7 linked regions of the Homo sapiens genome follow. The protein of the gene in region 7 purifies or fractionates together with the protein of the main gene of each other region. This does not show direct contact. Each region holds a gene or a part of one and is shown on either strand. Other genes may lie near its edges. The genes, in order: PI4KB, YBX1, PGAM5, NOTCH3, AKAP9, PDE4DIP and DNAJC10.

The links.
Region 1: the proteins of DNAJC10 (region 7) and PI4KB purify together in Homo sapiens (affinity purification with mass spectrometry; 2 studies listed by BioGRID and IntAct, with this or other methods). This does not show direct contact.
Region 2: the proteins of DNAJC10 (region 7) and YBX1 purify together in Homo sapiens (co-immunoprecipitation; one large-scale study listed by IntAct). This does not show direct contact.
Region 3: the proteins of DNAJC10 (region 7) and PGAM5 fractionate together in Homo sapiens (co-fractionation; one large-scale study listed by BioGRID). This does not show direct contact.
Region 4: the proteins of DNAJC10 (region 7) and NOTCH3 purify together in Homo sapiens (affinity purification with mass spectrometry; 2 studies listed by BioGRID and IntAct, with this or other methods). This does not show direct contact.
Region 5: the proteins of DNAJC10 (region 7) and AKAP9 purify together in Homo sapiens (affinity purification with mass spectrometry; 2 studies listed by BioGRID and IntAct, with this or other methods). This does not show direct contact.
Region 6: the proteins of DNAJC10 (region 7) and PDE4DIP purify together in Homo sapiens (co-immunoprecipitation; 2 studies listed by BioGRID and IntAct, with this or other methods). This does not show direct contact.

Annotation. Positions count from the first base shown.
Region 1 is NC_000001.11:151,303,417-151,306,916, forward strand, and holds part of PI4KB (phosphatidylinositol 4-kinase beta), read right to left. Parts: intron 2,948-3,500; coding exon 2,720-2,947; intron 235-2,719; coding exon 125-234; intron 1-124. UniProt on the Homo sapiens protein: Phosphorylates phosphatidylinositol (PI) in the first committed step in the production of the second messenger inositol-1,4,5,-trisphosphate (PIP). May regulate Golgi disintegration/reorganization during mitosis, possibly via its phosphorylation.
Region 2 is NC_000001.11:42,701,862-42,704,305, reverse strand, and holds the end of YBX1 (Y-box-binding protein 1), read right to left. Parts: intron 2,326-2,444; 3' UTR 501-2,325; downstream 1-500. UniProt on the Homo sapiens protein: DNA- and RNA-binding protein involved in various processes, such as translational repression, RNA stabilization, mRNA splicing, DNA repair and transcription regulation.
Region 3 is NC_000012.12:132,717,342-132,720,841, forward strand, and holds part of PGAM5 (serine/threonine-protein phosphatase PGAM5, mitochondrial), read left to right. Parts: intron 1-97; coding exon 98-223; intron 224-368; coding exon 369-457; intron 458-645; coding exon 646-779; intron 780-1,420; coding exon of another isoform or gene 1,421-1,469; exon of another isoform or gene 1,470-1,826; intron 1,827-3,336; coding exon 3,337-3,487; 3' UTR 3,488-3,500. UniProt on the Homo sapiens protein: Mitochondrial serine/threonine phosphatase that dephosphorylates various substrates and thus plays a role in different biological processes including cellular senescence or mitophagy. Modulates cellular senescence by regulating mitochondrial dynamics.
Region 4 is NC_000019.10:15,187,496-15,190,995, forward strand, and holds part of NOTCH3 (neurogenic locus notch homolog protein 3 precursor), read right to left. Parts: intron 1,934-3,500; coding exon 1,778-1,933; intron 1,680-1,777; coding exon 1,494-1,679; intron 854-1,493; coding exon 740-853; intron 500-739; coding exon 386-499; intron 1-385. UniProt on the Homo sapiens protein: Functions as a receptor for membrane-bound ligands Jagged1, Jagged2 and Delta1 to regulate cell-fate determination.
Region 5 is NC_000007.14:92,108,018-92,111,173, reverse strand, and holds the end of AKAP9 (A-kinase anchor protein 9), read right to left. Parts: intron 2,681-3,156; coding exon 2,541-2,680; intron 1,053-2,540; coding exon 1,015-1,052; 3' UTR 501-1,014; downstream 1-500. UniProt on the Homo sapiens protein: Scaffolding protein that assembles several protein kinases and phosphatases on the centrosome and Golgi apparatus. Required to maintain the integrity of the Golgi apparatus. Required for microtubule nucleation at the cis-side of the Golgi apparatus.
Region 6 is NC_000001.11:148,850,928-148,854,427, reverse strand, and holds part of PDE4DIP (myomegalin), read right to left. Parts: intron 1-3,500. UniProt on the Homo sapiens protein: Functions as an anchor sequestering components of the cAMP-dependent pathway to Golgi and/or centrosomes.
Region 7 is NC_000002.12:182,789,257-182,792,110, forward strand, and holds part of DNAJC10 (dnaJ homolog subfamily C member 10 isoform 1 precursor), read left to right. Parts: 3' UTR 1-2,854. UniProt on the Homo sapiens protein: Endoplasmic reticulum disulfide reductase involved both in the correct folding of proteins and degradation of misfolded proteins.

The sequences.
Region 1 (3,500 bases), on a different chromosome or scaffold from region 7:
CAGAATGAAAGAGGGAAAGACACAGGCCAACAACAGATGATTGAGATGGAGAGGAAGGTAACAAAGAGATGGGAAGTTCCTGAAAGAGGGATGAAAAATGAGGGGCAATGTGATCTGGCCATACCGGATGTCCCCTGCTGCAATGAACACAGGCTCCTTGCTCTCCTGGCTGGTGATGCTGTCCACAGAGAACTGGGAGATGTTGTCACAGCTGTTGGTATGCACTTCGGGGAGCTGGAGAAAGGGGAGTGCTGGTCAGAAGTGCTAAAGTATAGGTCTCCCGTCTTTCCCCTCCTGCTTGCTTGCTATCACTGCAGCATGCTCATCCCTCTCTTTCAAACTCTGCTTACACACCATGTTGGTTACTGGGACCCCAGGCTGCCCAGAGCAGCATTTCTCAACATGTGAACTACCTGCAGTAGAATTACCCAGAATGCAGATTCCCAGGCCCCACCATCAATCTGAATTATAATTACTAGGAATGGGATCTGAAAGTCTGAATTTTTAACAAGTTCTCCAGAAGACTTCCAATGCACTAAAGTTTGCAAACCACTGCCATGACCATTACAGGAGCTCAAAATTTCAGCCTCACTGAGAGTCCCCCAAGGATAGGGATGCGTTCTCCCCTAGGGTCCAAAGCAGACTCTTTGCAGACTAGCTTCTGACAGTTTCTTCAATCTAAGTCATTCAATCTTATCTTCTCATCTCTCTCTAAATACAGAATATTCTACCAGACCCCAAGGCCCATGTCAAGTCTCTTCTGTCCTTCATACCAGAGCATTTCTTCTCAACTCCATTTGTCACCTAGTACACACTGCTTTGTTGTATATCTAAATTTTTTTTTCTTAAATGTCTAATTTCTGCAATTGGACTATAAGCTCAAAGACAGAGATTCTGCCTTTTGGCAAAGTGAAACCTGGCTGTGTGTTTTTTTTTTTTTTTTTTAGACGGAGTTTCGCTCTTGTTGCCCACGCTGGAGTGCAATGGTGTGATCTCGGCTCACTGCGACCTCCGCCTCCCAGGTTCAAGCGATTCTCCTGCCTCAGCCTTCTGAGTAGCTGGGATTACAGGCGCGCGCCACCATGCCTGGCTAATTTTTTGTATTTTTAGTAGGAACGGGGTTTCACCATGTTAGTCAGGCTGTTCTTGAACTCCTGACCTCAGGTGATCTGCCCACCTCAGCCTCCCGAAGTGCTGGGATTGCAGGCGTGAGCCACCGCGCCTGGCCCTGGCTGTGTTTTTGTTTTGTTTTGTTTTAAGACAGAGTCTCACTCTGTCACCCAGGCTGGAGTGCAGTGCTGTGATCTCAGCTCCCTGCAGCCTCCGCCTCCCAGGTTCAAGTGATTCTTGTGCTTCAAGAATCACTTGCCTCCCGAGTAGCTGGGATTACAGGCATGTTCCACCACACCTGGCTTTTTTTTTTTTTTCTTTTGAGACGGAATTTTGCTTGTCACCCAGGCTGAAGTGCAGTGGCGTGATCTTGGTTCACTGCAACCTCCGCCTCCTGGGTTCGAATAATTCTACTGCCTCAGCCTCCCGATTAGCTGGGATTACAGGCACATGCCACCACGCCCGGCTAATTTTTGTATTTTTAGTGGAGACGGGGTTTCACCATGTTGGCCAGGCTGGTCTCGAACTCCTGACCTCAGGTGATCTGCTCGCCCTGTCCTCCCAAAGTGCTGGGATTACAGGCGTGCGCCACCGCACCCGGCATAATTTTTCTAGTTTTAGTGGAGATGGAGTTTCACCTTGTTGGCCAGGCTGGTCTCGAAATCCTGACTTCAAGCGATCCACCCACCTCGGCCTCCCAAAGTGTTGGGATTACAGGTGTGAGCCACTGCGCCTGGCCAGCTGTGTTAATAGCTCTACACAAAATTCTGCTCTGGCTCTTCATGCCCCAGAATAAAGTTCAAGTTTCTTTCCCCAGCTTACAGGGTCCTTCCTATAGTCTGGTCCATGCCCACGTGTCCAGTCTTATTCTTCACCACTTCTTACCTCACACCTGCACATCACAGCCAGGCAAAATTTCTTTCAATTCCTATAATGGCCCAAGCTCCCTCTTGTCTTCTGGCCTTTGCATGCAGTGTTCCCTCTGTCCAGCACTCTTTGTCCAGCTAATTCCTACCCATGCTTCCAGCCTCAGCTGAGAGATTACTTCCTCCAGGAAATCTCTTGTGATGCCCGCCCCAAGTCTGGTGCTCTTATAATGTCCTATCCTTTCCCCCATGACTTGACTCTCACCACACTACAACTACTTGCTTACTGGCCTTGTTCTCTTTCCAGTTAGGTCATAAATCCCTTGTAGGCAGGGGCCAAGTCTTGTTCACTAGCATACAGCACTCAGGTCTGGCACATAGAAGGCCCTCAATAAAAATTTCTTGAATGAATTAATGTATGACTTCTCATCCTCTGCTATTCTATGACAACTTTATGTAGGTGTTCAATAAATATTTTCATTAAATTTCCCTCACTCCCCTTGGCCTAGAAGCTCCTCTTTACATTTAAATCTGAATCCTTCACCTGGAAAATGAACTCCACCTGAATCTATTCCAGGCTAGAGTTGTTCAGAGCTTTCCCCATATTACCCCTCACTACCTACACCACTCATTAGGATACTTGCCTTACCCTGCCTTGGGATATGCTGTCTTGTTTCCAATATAGTGAAAGCTCCTGGAGAAAGCTCCTGTGACCCAGCATTACCTCCCTGAAGCCCTCTCACCTCCACTTGCAGCTCGCCTATGTCATCCACCGACCAGGCCTCATCATCGTTGTCATAGTTGGGCACAGTGCTGAAGCTGCCAGCTCGCTGCTCATGGGTAATACCACATTCGGGCAAGTTTTCTACGGACCTCGTACTCCGAATTCGGTTCTCGGGGATCCGGGCAGGGACACTGGTGGTGTCAAAGTTTTCACATTCAAGGACTTCCACATAAATCAGGTAGGGAGCCTGGGGGAAGAGTGAGACAGTATTTGCAACTTACTTCCACCACTAACCCCCAAATCTCAACTCTGTTAGCAAGGTTCTTCCTGCTGTCCTTTCTCCTAGCTCCAGCCTTCATCCAATAGTCCTCTGAAACTATGAACACTATATTTAGGGCAGATACTTGTCCTATGATCACCTATGTAAAGAATTTGTGTGACAGAATCCTTAAGTCTTCAAAATATTTCAACTGAGCTCCAAAATGTACAGATGATGTGCTTGGGCCAAACCACTCTAGACTATCAATTACAGGCTGTAAGGGAGGCCTAGATGCCTCTGTGGGCTCGTCCTGAAGACAGGGCCCAGGGAGCTACAGTGGACAAAAAGACTGGGACAAAGCTGGGCACTGTCCCAAGGAGTGTCCCAAACTTCAGTATTTCCTTTGAAAGAAGAATATGGGCCGGGCGCGGTGGCTCACGCCTGTAATCCTAGCACTTTGGGGGGCCGAGGCGGGTGGATCATGAGGTCAGGAGTTCAAGACCAGCCTGGCCAAGATGGCGAAACCCCGTCGCTACTAAAA
Region 2 (2,444 bases), on a different chromosome or scaffold from region 7:
CCAGGCTCAGTGTCACCATCTAGGTGAGGCAGATAGGAGGAAACCATTGCTGCTGCAGCATCACCAAAGCACAGCGACTACCCTCGCTAGCAAAAGGAGTTTGCATAGCTTCCTAGCAATGTCTCCAGGTCTCATGTTGGTGTATCTGATTGGCAGAACAGGTTCTAAACCTTGATCTTGGCTGCAAGTTTTCTGGGTAGTTTTTGAGATGTATAGCCTCTGTAGTCCTTACAAATAATCCGTAAGTACACAAAATACTGGGCAACAGAACAGGAGACAGTATCTAAAAACATGTACGTAGTTCTGTTTCCAACACTAGCACCTAAGATTGTATTCCCCCAAACAACTGTCCTCCTCAATGTGTTTTCGAGAATCTCATTCTAACATTATTGGATGTTTAACCAATGTTTTTGGTCTTCCCATTTCCATGATATCCTAATACAGATGCTCTTCAATTTATGATGGGTCAATGTCCCCATAAACCACAAGTCAGAAAATCATTAAGTTGAAACTGCATTTAATGTTGGCAACACTGCAGTCAACTTACAATGGTTTCATTTATGATTTTTCAACTCTGTGATGCCATGAAAACAATGTTGATTCAGTAGAAACCGTAACCCCACTAAAAGCCCCTAAGTCAAACCACTGTTTAAGTCAGGGACTGTGTGCGTCTGCAGTTGTAAGTAACAGTTTAGATGCTACCAACAGTTGAAGTTTCAGGTCCACTGCACTCTTGCCAACACAGTATTTTCATGAACACCAGCAAGAAATAGGCTAACTCACTTCTGCAGTACAGATATTTACACTAAGTAGGGTTAAAAAAATTTTTTTTGAGTAGTCTCTTATCAAGTCCTCTGCAAAGAGTTAGTCCCAAGCAGGAGATGACTTCCACAGCACTGCAGGATTCCTGATGTGCCACTCTGGCCTACTCCCGACCCCTACTGTCTGCTTCCCCTGGGCCCTGATAGCTGGCCAGGATGATCTGGAGTGTTTCGGGGCAGCAGTCACTATCAACTACATGACTATTTCACAAAGCAAGCCAAAGAACATCTAACAAAACATTAGAAAACAAAAGCCAGAGAGGCCAGGTGCGGTGGCTCACACCTGTAATCCCAGCACTTTGGGAGGCTGAGGCGGGCGGATCACAAGGTCAAGAGATCAAGACCATCCTGGCTAACACAGTGCAACCCCATCTCTATTAAAAATACAAAAATTAGCTGGGTGTGGTGGCACGCACCTGTACTCCCAGCTACTAAGGTGGCCGAGGCAGGAGAATCGCTTAAACCTAGAGGTGGAGGTTGCAGTGAGCCAAGATTGTGCCACTGTACTCCAGCCTGATGACAGAACAAGACTCCGTCTCAAAAAGAGAAAAGATCAGCCAGACTAGGCTTAGGATTTAAGGTGTTGAGAACCACATAATTACAAGCTCACCAACCTCCATGTTCCTAAGCAGCTTTCCCATGGGTTTTATATTACTTGTTTCCATCTCTAGGACATAAGGAGCTGAACCAATATTTGATGACCACACCAGGCAGTGTGACAGGTTGTCCTAACACTTCAATTGGCATCTTCAATTGACACACTGAAACAAATTCTCCCAAGGTGACAAAACTAAGTGGAGCAGGATGAGAGTCTGGTCGGTCTAGGCTAGAGCAATGCCCTTTTAAACAATGCCTCACAGCCAAAGGGACCCACCCAAAATCTACACTCAAGTCTTTCTTACAAATGAGCTAAATCCTTCAATGAAAAATGGCCAGGTTATCAGAGTATGTATTTTCTAATTTTTAGTATGGGCCCACAGGCATGCCACTTAAAGGATTAGAGATTTTGAGACATTTTACCTGAGGGAATTACCAGTGAGCATCATCTATTTGTAGACTGGGTCAAGCTAAGGGTCCTATAAATAGCTAAATACTTACAAACTAAAGCAAAACTAGACAAATTTACACAAAGACAATTATTTAAGACCTTTATTAACAGGTGCTTGCAGTTTGTTGACTTTTTTGAAAAAATCAAGTTGTAAACTTTTATTACAAATTAAAAATGAAGTTCTTAAAAATCTCAACTTGACCAGATATGAAACAATTTAAAAACCTTTAAAGGCGTATTGAGAAAAACCAGGCTTTTTTAAAAAACACGTTTGTTATTACCAAAAAGAGACGTCTTTAGGTAAAAATAATAAAAACCCCATGCTGCATAGATAATGCAGATAGTTCTATTTATCTGGTCAACGGGCAAAAAGCAAGCACTTTAGGTCTTCAGCTCCAATCTTTTGTTCATTTCTTATTGCTGGAATTTCATATTTCTTCTTGTTGGATGACTAAACTGTAAAGAAAAAAATAAAGATGATCATGTAGAATTCATGGTGATCTTCATTTAGTGTAGTACATGCCCTAGTTTACATTACTTGTGTATTGGGAGACATTAACAGATCTCTTGCCATC
Region 3 (3,500 bases), on a different chromosome or scaffold from region 7:
GAGGGTGGAGGAGGGCGTGTTTGCGGGCGGAGGAGGGGGTGTTTGAGGGTGGAGGAGGGGGTGCAGGTGCGGCACTCAGGTGCCTTTCACCTTCCAGGTCGGGAGCAGGCTGAACTCACTGGGCTCCGCCTGGCAAGCTTGGGGTTGAAGTTTAATAAAATCGTCCATTCGTCTATGACGCGCGCCATAGAGACCACCGATATCATCAGCCGGCACCTGCCAGGTGAGTGCTGCGCGCGGGGCCTCCATGCTTGCAGCAGTGGGCGGCTCGTGGCAGGGCCCCGGCCTGAGCTCCTGGCCACCGGGAGGTCACAGCATCTCCGCCGGCGGGGCCGCCTCACCCAGCGCTTCGCTGTGCTTCTCTGCAGGCGTCTGCAAAGTCAGCACAGATCTGCTGCGGGAAGGCGCCCCCATCGAGCCAGACCCGCCCGTGTCTCATTGGAAGCCGGAAGCTGTGGTAAAAACCTCCCCGGGGGGCAGCTGTGTCACCCTCGCCTTCCCTGGGCAAAGCGGCCCTGCTGGGCTCACCATCCACCACGTGCCCGGCCGTCCCACGGGCTTCCCCGGGCGGCGATGGGGTCTGTCCTCCTGACACCCGCCCTGCCCGAGCACTTCCGCACTGACGGCTCCTCACTCTGCCCCCAGCAGTATTACGAAGACGGAGCCCGGATCGAGGCCGCCTTCCGGAACTACATCCACCGCGCAGATGCCAGGCAGGAGGAGGACAGTTACGAGATCTTCATCTGTCACGCCAACGTCATCCGCTACATCGTGTGCAGGTAGGCAGCTGCTGGGCTGGGCGTGGTCTAAAATAATTTCAGACTTAGAGAAAAGCATGAGGAAGAAGCCGAGCGAGACCCTCCTCCACTGCCGATGCCACCCTAGTCAGGCCTCACCAGCCCCCGGGCGTCCACTTCCCGCGAGTCCTAGTCAGTTACGCGGTAGGTGGCGTGTTACTTGGAGCTTCTCATAAGGCTGTTTTGGGCAAGGGTGGTGCAGACAGGGAGGGACCCCTGTGGTGTCCTGGGTGGGGTGCGTGCTGGGTGGGGGGTCCTGAGTGGGGTGCGTGCTGGGTGGGGGTGTCCTGGGTGGGGTGTGTGCTGGGTGGGGGGTCCTGGGTGGGGTGCGTGCTGGGTGGGGGTGTCCTGGGTGGGGTGCGTGCTGGGTGGGGGTGTCCTGGGTGGGGTGCGTGCTGGGTGGGGGTGTCCTGGGTGGGGTGCGTGCTGGGTGGGGGGTCCTGGGTGGGGTGCGTGCTGGGTGGGGGTGTCCTGGGTGGGGTGCGTGCTGGGTGGGGGGTCCTGGGTACGGTGCATGCTGGGCGTCCGCACTGCCCTGGTTGTTTTCCCTTTGTAATTGAACGTCCTGTTTCCCCTCAAACTCGACCAACCACCTTCTGCCTCCGGCTGGATCCCACTGGCAGCATCCCGCCGCTGTTGTCCGCTGGGGATTTTGTGCTTCTGGGGTCCTGACCTCTTTCACTTGCTGATCTGTGGGCGCTCCCACCCGTGTGCCAGCGTGACGGCTCGGGGTGTCCGCTCCCCTCTGGGTCGAGGCCACAGCTGAGTCACGTTGCTGCTCGGGCTGCTCCCTCGGGGGGCCCTTGTCCCTCAACCTGCTCTGGTGCCCCACTCTCAGCACCACAGAATGATCCGGGTTCAGGTTGCGTTTTCCCTGCCACCACCCTGCAATCAGCCACTTCTTTAAGGAGCTCCAGGGCTGCAGCCACGTTAGAGGGCCCCTTGGGGGGCAGGGCCAGCTCTACGGTTACATGCCTGAAACAGTCAGAAGGGTTGGCCAAATCTCACTAAATGCAAATTTGAAACAAATTTGCCTCTTCTCTGGATCCATTAGGAAATGTGTGTGTGGGCTCCGCAGCTGAGGGGGCCCTCTTGAGTGTGACGAGTCCTGTGGTGGGAGGACAGGACGGCACTGGTCAGTGATGCCGTGTGAGGCTGGGCCCTGGTCTCTGCCCGTCTGTCACCTGGGCCTGTCACCAGGGCTGGGGCTGCTGGGAGCACCATGGTCAAGAGCAGCAGCTCCCAGAAAGTCGAGGATGTACGGGCCGAGATTCTCAAGCTTGGCTCCAGACCAGATAGAGCTTTTCTGGGGGTTGGAGCCTCCGGGTGGTGTGGCCTCAGGCTAAGTGAGTACCTGTTTGCTGTGAGTCGTTCGTTGCCTCCTGTCTGTGCTTGTGAATGAGCCATATGGGTGGCTTCTATGCTGCCACCACCACCTTGTGTGTCCATGACACAGTCACCCCGAGGTGACACAAATGCTAAAAATGCACAGAAATAACCGGGGCGGGAGAGTGGAGCCGACCTGAGTCCACACAGTGGTGAGGGCCAGGCACGTGCACCTGGACACGAGAATATGGCTGTGCTGTTCCGGCCGGTGCCGCCAGGCAGCCCTGAGGAGGCTCGGGAAGCAGCGTGAGGGTGGCCATGCGGCCCACTGAGACAGGGCGGTGGGTGGCTCAGAGGCGATGAAGGCAACTCCGAGCTTTTCCGCAAATGCGAATTGTGCCTAAGAAGTGCATGAAGATGCCACGGCGGGTAGATCCCATCTCCGTTCTTTGCTTTCCCAGAAAGGGACCTGTTGCACTAACTGGCTGCTCCCTGCTTTTATATGGGAAAAGCAGAAATTAAACTGTGTTTCCTCGTAAGAAGTCAGCGTTGTTCTGATCTGTGCAAATCTTGAGTTGGGGTTGGGCCCCTGTCCTAAAGAGGGCAGGTCCCCAAGTGTGATGGCTCCATTCATGTCGATCCCAGTCATCGATTCACGTCGATCCCAGCCAGATCTTCCCCGAGAAGCCCCGACTGAAGACAGGAGCGGCTCGGCTGATGTGTACCCCGGCCCTGAGGCTGCTCTGAGACTTCTGAGGGGCTCAGCCTCTGTTTGTAGAACAGAGCCCCCTGGCACAGCCTGGCCCAGCCTCTTTTAAGGACAGAGTCCCCTGGCTCTAGCCCAGCCCGTTTTTTTTTTTTTAGACAGAATCTCGCTCTGTCACCCAGGCTGGAGTGCAGTGGCGCGATCTCAGCTCACTGCAAGCTCCGCCTCCCGGGTTCACGCCATTCTTCTGCCTCAGCCTCCCAAGTAGCTGGGACTACAGGTGCCTGCTATCACGCCCAGCTAATTTTTTGTATTTTTAGTAGAGATGGGGTTTCACCGTGTTAGCTGGGATGGTCTCGATCTCCTGACCTTGTGATCCACCCGCCTGGCCTCCCAAAGTGCTGGGATTACAGGTGTGAGCCACCATGCCCGGCCTAGCTCAGCCCGTTTTAAGGACAGAGCCCCCTGGCTCTAACGTGCTCTTTCTCTCTCTCTCTCTCTCCCCAGAGCACTGCAGTTTCCTCCTGAAGGCTGGCTCCGGCTCTCCCTCAATAATGGCAGCATCACCCACCTGGTGATCCGACCCAACGGCCGAGTTGCGCTCAGGACCCTCGGGGACACGGGGTTCATGCCTCCCGACAAGATCACTCGATCCTGAGGGCTCCGGCCTC
Region 4 (3,500 bases), on a different chromosome or scaffold from region 7:
TTCCACTCCACCCCACTACAAGCTCCAGAATTTGTCCCTAGCCAAGACTCTCCCACAGTTAAATCCCGCCCCCAGCTGTGGCCCCACCTCCAGCCCTGTTTCTGCCCCACCCTCCACTGGAGATGGGAGCACATGGCAGGTGCCAGGGGAAGGTATTGGGCCCTCCCCATTCAGTTACAGGCACCCTGTGCCCAGCCCAACACTTTGGCTCCACACGTAGCCTTATGTCAGTCTATATGCATTATTGGCTCCACCCCCCAACTCTGTCACTGGGTCCTGCCTTGCTACAACCCCGCCCCCAAGCTCTCCCCAAGTCTGTTATTGGCCCTGTCGCCCACAAGCCCCGCCTCCTGATTCTTGTCGGACTGTCATTGGCCCGCCTCACCCTCGGCACAGCGGCACTCGTAGCCATCGGGCTGGTCCACGCATTTGGCGCCATTCCTGCAGGGCGTGCTGGCGCATTCGTCCACGTCCAGCTGACACGTGGAGCCGCTGAAGCCTGGGGTGGGGAGTGGGATGAGCAGAGGCCCAGAAAGGGTGAGAGCAGTACACCCCTCTCCAGCCCCGCCTTGTTTGGGTGGAAAAACCCATTTACTTGGATTTAAATTAACTTCAATGTTTCATAACATATGGTTTCTATTGTAAGTTATCCGCTAACGTGGTTTTACAGGTTCCCACCCTGGAGTTTTTGCCCCTTCCCAGACATGTCTTTTCGGGCTCCCTCTCCTGAGGTCCTCACCCGAGGGGCAGGTGCAGCTGAAGCCATTGACTCGGTCCTTGCAGACCCCACCGTTGACACAGGGGCTACTCTGACACTCGTCAATGTCCACCTCGCAATAGGTTCCTGTGAAGCCTGGGGCAGGGAATAGGGCTTAGGAAAGCGGGGGCTACCCTATGGTGTGAACGGGGTGCAAGGAAGGAGGTACTTCCCTTCCTACTCATCGACAAATCCCCCGAGCCTTCGTCCCCACCTCTACACTCCCAGCCCAACCTTAATTTTCAGCCACAGGCTGGACTGTCACCCAGCCGTGGTCCCAACTGGCCCAAGGCTCATGGGTGTCCGCAGAGGCCTTGCCTTCAAACCCCTCCTCCTCTCCCCAGTCCTCAGACTAAGCCCTTTCCCCAGTCCCCAGCCCCCAGCCCCAGGGCCCCCCATAGCCTTTGCCCAGGCTTACTGCAAGCTTGTCTGCAGGCTTCACCTTGACCTCACAGCAGCCCCGACTCTGCCTCTCTATCCCCAACCCCTTCCCGAGTGGGTCCTAAGGCCAAGAATACTCCCAGCCCACCTGAGGTTCTACTGACTCCATTTGACCAAGCCCCCAGAATCACACAGTATTCCCTTCTGGTCCTGACCCCACCTCCTTCCAGGCTTCAGTCTCTAAGGGTCCCACTCCAAACCCACTTACACCCCATTCTGCTCAGCTCCCCATCCGCGGGCTTCTCTGTCCCCGCCCCCTGCCTCAGGACCCGCCCAGGCCACGCCCACCACCCACCTGCCATACAGATACAGGTGAACTGGCCTATGCGGTCGAGGCACGTGGCCTGGTTTCGGCAGGGCCCCGACAGACACTCGTTGACATCGGTCTCACAGCGAGGTCCAGTGTAGCCACGACCGCACTGGCACAGGAAGGAGCCCTGCGTGTTCACGCACCTGCCCAAGTGCTCGCAGGGGTTGGCGCCTGCCGGATGGAGTGCGATCGGTGTGGGCGTGGCTGGCCGGGACCCCCTCCTCTCCCCTCTTTCCCAGCCCATTCACAGACGATGGAGCTCCCCTCACCGATAGAGCACTCGTCCACATCCTGGTCACATGCCCCACCCGTGAAGCCGGGAGGACAGGTGCAAATGGCCCGGCCGTTCACCGGATTTGTGTCACAGATAGCATCCTCGTGGCAGGGGTTGCTGACACAGGCGTCATCCAGGTGACACAGGAGGCCTGGGAAGTGGTAAGCAGAAGTCATAGGCAGATCTTCCTGCTCTGCCCAAAAGGCCCACACCCCTTGAGTATTGTTTTGTCGTTGTTGTTGTTTTGTTTTGTTTTTTGAGACGAAGTTTCGCTCTTGTTGCCCAAGCTGGAGTACAATAGCGCGATCTTGGCTCACTGTAACCTCCACCTCCCAGGTTCAAGCGATTCTCCTGCTCAGCCTCCCGAGTAGCTGGGATTACAGGCATGTGCCACCACGCCCGGCTAATTTTTTGTATTTTTAGTAGAAACGGGGTTTCACCAAGTTAGCCAGGTTGGTCTCAAACTCCTGACCTCAGGTGATCTGCCTGCCTCAGCCTCCCAAAGTGCTGGGATTACAGGCGTGAGCCACCGCGCCCGGCCTGTTGTTTTTATTAAACCTAAACAGTATTTAGTAGCTGCTTTTTTAATCCATTTATTATGAGAACTATCAAACATACAGAAAAGTTGACCATTCATATACCCACCACCTAGATTCAACTATTGTTAGCTTAATCTACCAATCTTCTTTTCTAAACCATTTAAAAATAAATTGCAGACCGGGCACAGTGGCTCACGTCTATAATCCTAGCACTTTGGGAGGCCAAGGTGAGTGCATCGCTTGAGTTCAAGAGTTCAAGACCAGCCTGGGCAATATAGTGAGACCCGTCTCTACAAAAAATACAAAGCTTAGCCGGGCATGGTGGCGCACGCCTGTAATCCCAGCTACTTGGGGGACTGAGGTGGGAGGATCACTTGAGCCCAGGAAGTCGAGGCTGCAGTGAGCTGAGATCATGCCACTGTACTCCAGCCTGGGTGACAAAGTGAGACTCTGTCTCAAAAATAAAATAAAATAAATTGCAAACATCCACATATTGTTTTAAAACCTTTTGACTCTTCTGATTACAAAAGGGTCCTACACTCCAGCCTTTGCTTCTGTAATACCCTCTGCCATGTATGCCCTCTTTCTATATCCACGTTCCCCTCCTAAACATGTTCTCTGATCTTTGCCACTTCCAAAGGTAACTCCCAGGAGTTCCCCATTCCAATGGCTTCTGCCCTGAGCCATGCATCAGTGCAATGTCAGCCTCCTCCCAAGCCTCTCCCAGGCTTACACTTCCCCACTAAAGCTGCCTCCAGCATCATCTTTTTTTCTCTCTCTTTTTTGTTATACACGGTCTTACACTGTCTCCCAGGCTGGAACGCAGTGGCTCAGTCTCAGCTCACTGCAACCTCCACCTTCTGGGCTCAAGCCATCCTTCAACCTTAGCATCCAGAGTAGCTGGGACTACAGGCATGCGCTACCATGCCCAGCTAATTTTTTGTATTTTTGGTAGAGATAGGGTTTTGCCATGTTGCCCAGGCTGGTCTCAAACTGCTGAGCTCAAGCAATCTACCCGCCTGGGCCTCCCAATGTGTTGGGGTTACAGGCGTGAGCCACCACACCCAGCCTACCAAGTTTTTGTAGAGATGACAAAAACTCACTATGTTGTCCAGGCTGGTCTCAAAGTCCTGGGCCCAAGCGATCCTCCCATCTTGGCCTCCCAAAGTGCTGGGATTA
Region 5 (3,156 bases), on a different chromosome or scaffold from region 7:
GACAAAATCCTCCAGGTGTAAGCATCAAATACTAGTCCTCTTGCTGTTTTAGTGAGTTGCCATGTTATTGAGGAGGACTCCAGATGAGAAATAACATTGCGATCTGTATTATCTCTGTGAGAGCCTCCCAGTCTGAATTTGGCTTGGACAACAGGGATACTGTTTAATTCGGCTGCAATGTGATTAAGATCTTTTGAGTTAATGATTTCTTCATCTTTTTAGTGGGCCATGGATTTGTGAGAACACATCTTTGGAAACAAGTAACACTAACTGTAATATAGTAAATACTGATTAATCATGAAATACCAATATAGCTTTTAAAAAACACTATGTAGATGTAAAGTTGATACAAAGACACATGGAAAACTTTCAACAGTATTAACTCTAAGATTAGGACAACTTTCTCTGAATCTCTCACTCCTACATATTTGACATAAGTAATGAGATGCTATGTACCAAGAACTATGGCTCAGTTAAAAATGAAGAAGGTTCAAATACAGTGTGGTGAAAATGGTGAAGTCATTTTTATTTCAGTACTTGACAAAATACCCCATAAAATTCAAAACTTCTACCATTATACAAAAATAGGTCTCTACAAGTGATATTATCTGTCTTCATCACCAGTAGAATATATTAGGCAAAACATGTAACTTCAGTAGCCTTATAAGAAAAGTGCAGGACACCTCGAGCTACACATTCAGCAGTATTGTAATGCGTAAAAGTTTAATCTTTTCACCCATTTGATAAATACACAAGGTTTATAATTTAATGTTTTAAATTAGCATTCCACAAATATACAGGTAATTCAATAATTATTGTGCATGAATACATACACAATGCTTATATATACAAATTCCAGTTTGTTTTCATGTGCTGGCAAGGGATTTGTATACAATCATAAGCTGTGTTCATATTGGTCCCATTGAATATTCACAATACAAAAGCACAAAAGAACCATTGATTTACAAAAGGAAATCTATTTAAAATCACTTCAATTAATGATGTTTCAAAGGATTATCTTCTCATGCCAGCATGAAATTGAGTAGTTGAACCTATGAGAGAAAAACAGGAAATTCAACTGATTTCAAATTACATTGCTACCTGTATCAGACCCACCAGAGTTCACACAAAGGAAATTATTATTATTCTCCATTTTTTTAAAGCCCTTTTTTTCCTTAAAATGTCCTCTTCATACTTAAACTGAGTCTCTCCCCACTACCCCCAAGGTGGAGTGTTACTCTGTTGCCCAGGCTGGAATTCAGTGGTGTGATCTTGGCTCACTGCAACCCCCGCCTCCTGGGTTCAAGTGATTCTCCTGCCTCAGCCTCCTGAGTAGCTGGGACTATCCACACATGCCACCATGTCCAGCAAATTTTTGTATTTTTAGTGGAGACGGGGTTTCACCATGTTGGCCAGGCTAGTCTCGAACTGGTTGGTCTTGAACTCCTGACCTAGTGATCCGCCTGCCTCGGCCGCCCAAAGTGCTGGGATTACAGGCATGAGCCACCGCGCCCAGCCCATATACTTAAGCTGACTTTTAAGAGATTTTGAATATATATGTAAAAATCACCATGACTGGCTCTATGGCAAGGTAGGTGAGACTAATATTTAGAGTTTTTTTAAAGTGCTCTCAAAGTTGGATGTTCTATACCTCATACATTTTTGAAAAATCTTTTGGTCTTCAAAATCTGGGTCTTGTGAAATTTGGATGCTCAAAACAAAACAAGCCTAGGCAAACCAACAAACTCAGCTATGATAATAAAAGTTTCCTATTACTACAAGATGCTTGGGTGTAAACAAATGATTTCTTGAAGGAAGAGATAAACTACTCAATGATTCAAAGTCTCTGAATCAGGAGTGAACTGAAGTGAGATAGGGAAAAGAGGTTTTCCTTCCATGAACAGGGAATCCACCTTTATTTTAAAGTATGACTTGTTTTTTGTTTTTGAACAAAGAAAAAATAATCCTTACAAAGTATTTTAAATGGGATAGTTTTTTTCGATGATACATAAAAGCACAATATAGTAGCAGGGATAATGGTTACATTAAGTGCTTAAAGTAAGTGCTTCCTCCTTAACTCCACCCGATTTGCATGCCTTACCACTTTCTTTTTTTTTTTTTTTTCTTTGAGACAGGGTCTCGCTCTGCTGCCCAGGCTGGAGTGCTGCGGCACGGCCTTACCACTTTCTGCCATGCGCTACTTAGGAATACGTTCTCCAGTTAGGCTCTGTAGACTCAGAGTACCTTGCACACTGGTGCTCATTGTGCATTTTGTGTCATCAGTCCGCTGAATGAACATAGTAGGAAATCATTTTTGGGAGGAGTGGGATCTGGGGTGATAAATCATATTTTCACTTAAATTATTTAAAGTCAGTTTCTCTGCTGGTTACAAGAGTTTAAGCTTTGGCTAACTTAATAATTAGCTCATGCACTAAACTGGAAGCTTTGATTATCCTAATGAGTGTGAAAGAATTTCAAAGAAAGGGGAGCTGTGGGTCTCGCACTGTGGTGCTGCCAAGATGTGGTTAAACTCAGAGCACCTGACTGTATAGTTCCAAGTCGTCTTTGCAGTGCCTCTAGCCGAGTGATATAATCTGTTAGGGCTCTGTCAGGATCGTAATTCTGAAGCTGAGAACATGCTAAAGAACCAGGATTGAAATCAGCTGGAGTGCCTGGGTACCTAAAGGATTAAAAATATGTACATGAATCAAGTTATCCAGAAATATGCATATAAGTTACCAACCTGCCTCCACTCCCTTCCCCAAAAAGGTGGGTCACTTGTACACACATAATGTATCTCCTCCAAGCTTCAGCTTTGGAGCTTGGGATGAGAAAGAGACAACTCTCCAATGAATTCAAAGATGCTACTAAGTCAACATAAGAATGTCCAATACAATGCTTGTGGCAGAGGTCTCAATAAATTGGGTATGTATAAATGTATCTTGTCATGAAGACTGTTAAGCTTTTCATAATGATCAGAGTATCAATTTTAGTCAATACTTTTCCCAATATCTAACCATAGCATACACTAAATAACACTTGGTCAGCTTGTTTGCTATACCCTTGGAAATCAGTTACAAATTTAAACACTGGTTTTTACATTTTTACATTAAGCCTTAGGTTATGTATATTTTTTTTCTTTTTTTTTTTTTTTGG
Region 6 (3,500 bases), on a different chromosome or scaffold from region 7:
GGATTTTAAAATAAAATTGACTAAGGGTTACCAAGCCGGGAGATGGTTAAGGCAGTTAGAGATTCTAAAGCAGCGTTGAGAACACGATTCAAAGAGCTGACTCTGACGTCTAGGTTCAGTATGGAGGTGAATAAACAGCAGATGGCCTGGAAGATACAGAGAGTTGAGGAACTGGAATACATGACGCAGTAAACAACATTCAGAAAGAATGAGGAAGTGGGGGACTTGACCTGTGGTCAAGAAGTATAATTTCAGCATTAAGGATCCTAAGGGTGGAAAATCTGGAAGAAAGATGAGCTACAAAAGATGGCTGTGCTGATAGCATACTGAAGTGAATTCGAGTTAAGGCTATGTCAGGTCAAGGTATAACAGTGATGTATGTCCATGCCTAGTGACCCCTCTAGAATGTCAGTCTCTGGAAGGGAGGGTTTTTAGATCATTCACTATCATCTGTCCAGCATTAAAGAAGTCTAGATCATAGGAATTGGATGCGTATTTCTTTTTTTTTTCTTTTCCCGTAACTGAGGAAACAAGACACATATTTCTTAAACAATGATAAATACAATCTGAATGTATAATGGTGTCAAGTTTGATAACCTGTTGTATCCATTCTACAATAAGGAGACACCCACCAAACAGATATTCCCATCGGCCTTTTGGGGAATGTTCTCTGGAAAGCTCTTAATAGATGACCTTCTAAGTGCTAGAGGCAATGTTAGATGCTGAAGACTTATAGACAAAAACGTTTCATTCTGCCGATAAACTTGGAGTATGGAAAATATCAAGTTAACCAACTAGCTACATGCTACAACAGAGTAGGCAGAGCGTGTTCTGGCTACACCCAGATCTAGGTTCTAAAAATAATTCCTAAAGGAGGTACTTCTGAATCTAACCTCTGAAGGGTATACAAATTTATCCCAGCAAAGGCAAGGCTAGATGTGTAGGTGGGAACAACTGGTATATTAAGGCCCACTCATAATAATTTTAGCTCAGGGTAAATTAAGTCGCAATGACTCTCCAACCAGCTCCCCGGGTCTGCTGGCAATAATGCTGCTCCTGTGGTGCCAATAACCTGAAAATCTCCAAGTAATACAAGAAAGTTATACACAGAAAACCTCCAAGTGATACACAGAAAAACCTAAAACCAACTCAATTCCAAACTTTACATGTTGTCATTTGGTAGACACAAATGTGAACTTCTTCCTGCAATAAAAACCTATGTTGACTTAGTTTAAAAGCAGCATATAAAGGATGTTGCCCATAATCCCCTAACCAAACAAGGCATCTATTTTCTCTTTTCTCTGTCCTTGTAATAGACATCCTAATAGGTATACATAGTTTTGATGTAATTTACATCTATCTTTTACTTTCTTATGTTAAAATTTTCTGTTTATTATCATTTCAGGAAACGTTTCAGGATAGTAATAGAGATTAACAGCAACAGTGAAGCATTTTACCCTAGAGAAGGGTAAAAGTTGGAAATGTTGCTATTGATTCACCTAGGTTATGCCACTTTAATGTCAGTGTGCCTCAGTTTCCCCCTTTACAATACAGGGATTCAGGTCTTGAAAAAGATATTTAAATTGAATGCAATATCTTTCTTATGGGACTATAACTTTAAGTAATTTGCAATGTACTTTCAAGAACTGGAAATGTTGACATAGTTATTCTACTTCTGAACATCTCTCATTCAAAAAATAATGCTGTGGAAGAAGATGCTTTATGCACCTAGACATTTATCAAGTATTATTTATAATAGTTAAAAATTGGAAGTCTACATCCTTTGGGTTAGGCGTAATGATTTAAAAGACACTGTAAATCCACAGCATGTTATTCTACATTATGAATGATAATATACCACATTATGAAGTGGAAAATAAATTCATTCTTAAATTGTGTGAAATGCTAGAAATTATTCAATTTTCTTTGTGAGTCAATGCTTTCTAGTTTTTTTTTTTTTTTTTTTTTTTTTTTTTTTTCCGACAAAGTCTTGCTCTGTCACCCAGGCTGGAGTGCAGTGGTGTGATCTCGGCTCACTGCAACCTCCACTTCCTGGGTTCAAGCAATTCTCATTCCTCGGTCTCCCGATTAGCTGGGATTACAGGCACCCCCCACCATGCCCACTAATTTTTGTATCTTTAGTAGAGATGGGGTTTCAACATGTTGGCCAGGCTGGTCTCGAACTCCTGACCTCAAGTGATCCTCCTGCCTTGGCCTCCCAAAGTGCTGGGATTACAGGCGAGAGCCACTGTGCCTGGCCAGTGAATGCTTTCTATATGTCAGAAGTTATTGCTTCTTTCCACCCTTTCCACCATGACCATGATAAGAAGACACTAGTTGCAAGTTACCTCTTCCCTCACTGGCCTTGGAAAAGACAAGAAAGAAAGACGTTTCTGTGGAATGTAACAAGCAGAAAAGGACTGAAGATAATGAGACAGATTAAGGAAAGATGAATCACAGGCTGTGAAAGTGCTATGAAAATAAAACAGTATTATTATACAATTTATTATAAATAGTCTATGACTAATTTAGCACTTTAGCCATAAGCGTTCAGAAAAAAGAAATTCAGATCATGCTTGTCTTGCTGGCCACAGAACTCAGAAAATGCTCTGAGGCAGAGGAAAACAAGTCCTCAGTGCATTTGAGTGTTTTAAAATAGAATCACATAGAGCCACCTTGGGTCAATATGACATCTCTTGTATTCTGGACTTTCTTCTAACTTTAAATGCTATTTGAATTTTTGCCAGAGACAGCTTGTGGAATGTTCTGAGCCCAGTTTGGAATTTTATTTATAAAATGGGGTAGATTTCAATAGAAGTAGTGTCCTGGGGCATCCACTGAATGGATGGATGCTCCACTTAGCCTTGAAAATATGATCCCTCAGCCACAGTCAGGCGAGCCTCCCAGGATGGGGACGGCACCATGAGGTGTTACTTATCCTTTCTGAGACAAAAACAACCCCTTCCCAGTCTTTAGGTATTTTAAACATAGTCTTAGCATGTAGCTGAAAAAATGGGGGTTGGGGGAGTCAGGTCCAGACTGATCTAGTGTGTGGAAAATAAGCAAGTAGGAGTGAAAGCATTGATTCTGGCAAATTCCCCAAGCCGAAATCCAAGTATAGGCCCATTTAAAAGTAGACTGGAGTTGCCAAGGCAGAATTTCCTTCTTAAAATTCAGATAATTAGTTGCTAGCAGTGCTGAATATTAAACAGGAAATTCAACTTCCAAAGATGTTTCAATAATAGAATTCTGAAAACAAGCATTTTCCTAATATGAAGTGTTACATGCAAAGCACCAGCACCATAATAAGTAAAGGTACTGGAATTAACTAGGCCTTCATACAACACATACTAGTTGTGTGAATGCCAGCAAATCATTTAACCACTTTAACCTCAGTGGCCATATATCTCTGGTTGTAACTATGTCTTTGTAAACAGGACTCTCTACTAACTCACCATAAATTCAGAGAAAAATAAATGTCCCTGATTCCTCTAGGCTAA
Region 7 (2,854 bases):
TGTCCCCCTGGCTGGAGTGCAGTGGTGTGATCTCAGCTCACTGCAACCTCCACCTCCCAGGTTCAAGCGATTCTCCTGCCTCACCCTCCCAAGTAGCTGGGACTGCAGGCATGTGCCACCACGCTGGCTAATTTTTGTATGTTTAACGGAGACAAGGTTTTAGTGTGTTGGCCAGGCTGGTCTCGAACTCTTGACCTCAGGTGATCCGCCTGCCTTGGTCTCCCAAAGTGCTGGGATTACAGGCGTGAGCCACCGCACCCAGCCAATTTTCTTCCTTTTTAAGGCTGAATAATATTCAATTATATATACATTCTACATTTTGTTATTCGTCCGTTGATAGGCTGCCTTCACCCTTTGGCCATTGCAAATAATGCTGCTATAAACATGGGTGTACAAATATCAGAAACCCTGCTTTCAGTTCTTTCAGCTATATACCTAGAAGTGTAAGTCTATATCATAGTAATTCTATTTTTAATATGGGGGGACCTCCATACTGTTTTTCATAGCAGCTGCACCATTTTACATTCCCACCAATAGTGCACAAGAGTTCTGATTTTTCCACATCCTCACCAACACTCATTTTTTTTAAATAGTAGGTATCCCAATGAGTGTGCGTTCATATCCCATTGGAGTTTTGATTTGTACTTTTAGAGTCTTTAAATTATTACTTTTTCCATATCAAAGTACTTTGTGGGAAGTTGGTTATTTTACATTCTCATACCATGCTTTGTATTACTTTCCCATTTGGATGCCCTTTTCATCCTTCACCTCATCCTGTAAACCCAAAATCTAACTTAAATCCCAAATCCAACTTCCACTGTAAAGCCTTTGCTGACTTCTTTACTTCACATTGATTTCTGAATTTCTAAAAGTTCCTCATTGTCTACCACAAAACTAAGTATTTGTTTATAAGAAAAAGCTTTATTTAGTCCTATATTATTCTCTGATTATTCCATATGTTATCTTCCAAACTAGATTGTTAGGTCTTCAAGAGCAGAAGAAATTTATTTTATACTTATAAACTTCAAGATTTGCTGAAGTACTTTGGGTGCTAAATGCTTCTAGCTTATTCGTTTAGTTTACATGACTTTCTGCATGTGAAACTTGAGAAAACTGCAAATCTAATACCTTGGTCTTACAGAACTGAACAATACTTAAATGTGTTTAAACCTGCTATATAAAATGTCAGATGTAAAAGCGAATATCTAATGAAGCACCTTTTCCCTTTTCTAAAATTCAATAGTAAGGGCCAGGCACAGTGGCTCACACCTGAAATCCCAGCGCTTTGGGAGGCCGAGGCGGGTGGATCCCTTGAGGTTAAGAGTTCAAGACCAGCCTGGCCAACATGGTGAAACGCCGTCTCTACTAAAAATACAAAAAAAAATGGCCAGGCGTGGTGGTGCACGCCTGTAATCCCAGCTACTTGGGAGTCTGAGACAGGAAAATCGCTTGAACCCGGGAGGCAGAGGTTACAGTGAGCTGAGGTCACGTCACTGTACTCCAGCCTGGGCAACAAGAGTGAAACTCTATCTCAAAAAAAAAAAAAAAAATTACAATAGTAATAATTATGCCTTCTAACACTAAAATCAAATAACCTTACTTATCAGTTACATTGCCTACTAAGCTGACTTATTTTCTGACTTTTCCTTTGCTTTATTCTCTTATTTCTTCCAAGTAACCATATTCTCTTTTACCCTCCTGTTCAACTGTCTATGCTCCTTCTCTCTTTGTTCACTATTTTGATATTTAAATGTTATGACTTATTTTCAAGTAAATATTTTTTTAATTTCTTCATTTGGGATAAAATATTCACTACATAAATTTAGTGGATAAATACCCCCACAGAGATCGACCCTGCATGAAATGTGTTCCCTCAGAAGTAGGGCAATTCATTCATTATGAGATCAAGCCATAAAATTTAAATCCAAGCAGTAATTCTCCAATTAAAGTAACTCTAGAGCTTAGTTTTCAGTCCTCCTGAATCATAACTAGTTGGCAACAAAAACTAGTATGCCTTGGTGTGAATAAACCTTAACATAGAAACTCACCCAGCCTCAAAAGTTAAAAATTAAGAGAGATATGTATTCAGGTGGCCATTTATACACAATATTTTTGAATACTATTCTGGCCAAATTAGTATAAAATGGGTTACTCTAAAATGAAATTTTAAAAGTATATAAACATCTTAAACTTTAAAACTTCAGCCCAGCTAGAAGTCAACGTGTGTTTCTGAAACTATGCTGGGGAAAGTAGCTCTGTCCATAATGATTATATAGTTGTTAGCAAAATATTGGTCAAAACTTTTTCAGTTTAATGAGTTTCAAGATATTCTTCAAACTGGCCTCTGTGAACTCTTTCTTGACAAGTGAAACCTGGCTCCAACAATGACTACTTTATTCTACCTCTCATTTATTTTCTGTTTAATAAATCCAGTATTTGGGCATACAAACTGTATACAACATTTTATAACACTCTAATGTGGATAAGACACCTCAAAAACAGGAGTTTAGTCATTTCAGTCACATGTTTCTAATACATGATAAGATTTGCAGTTATCGTTTAATTAATTGCAATATGGAAATAGATACTAAAAAATCTAAATTGCATCTTACATTTCAACAATGGATGTTTAAAGCGTTTAAAAGTTATGTTTTGCATTTTACAACATATTGAAGATACACATTTTAAATTTAACTCTAAACAATGCAATAATCTAGAGAATCAGAGAATTGGATCCTGAAACACCTTATAAGTTCAGTCCTGTTGATTAGTATGTTTCCCTGTCCTAGAGTGCATGAACTTTCAAAGCCAGGACACAATCTTGTTCACTTTTCATGCCATCATCTTGACACTC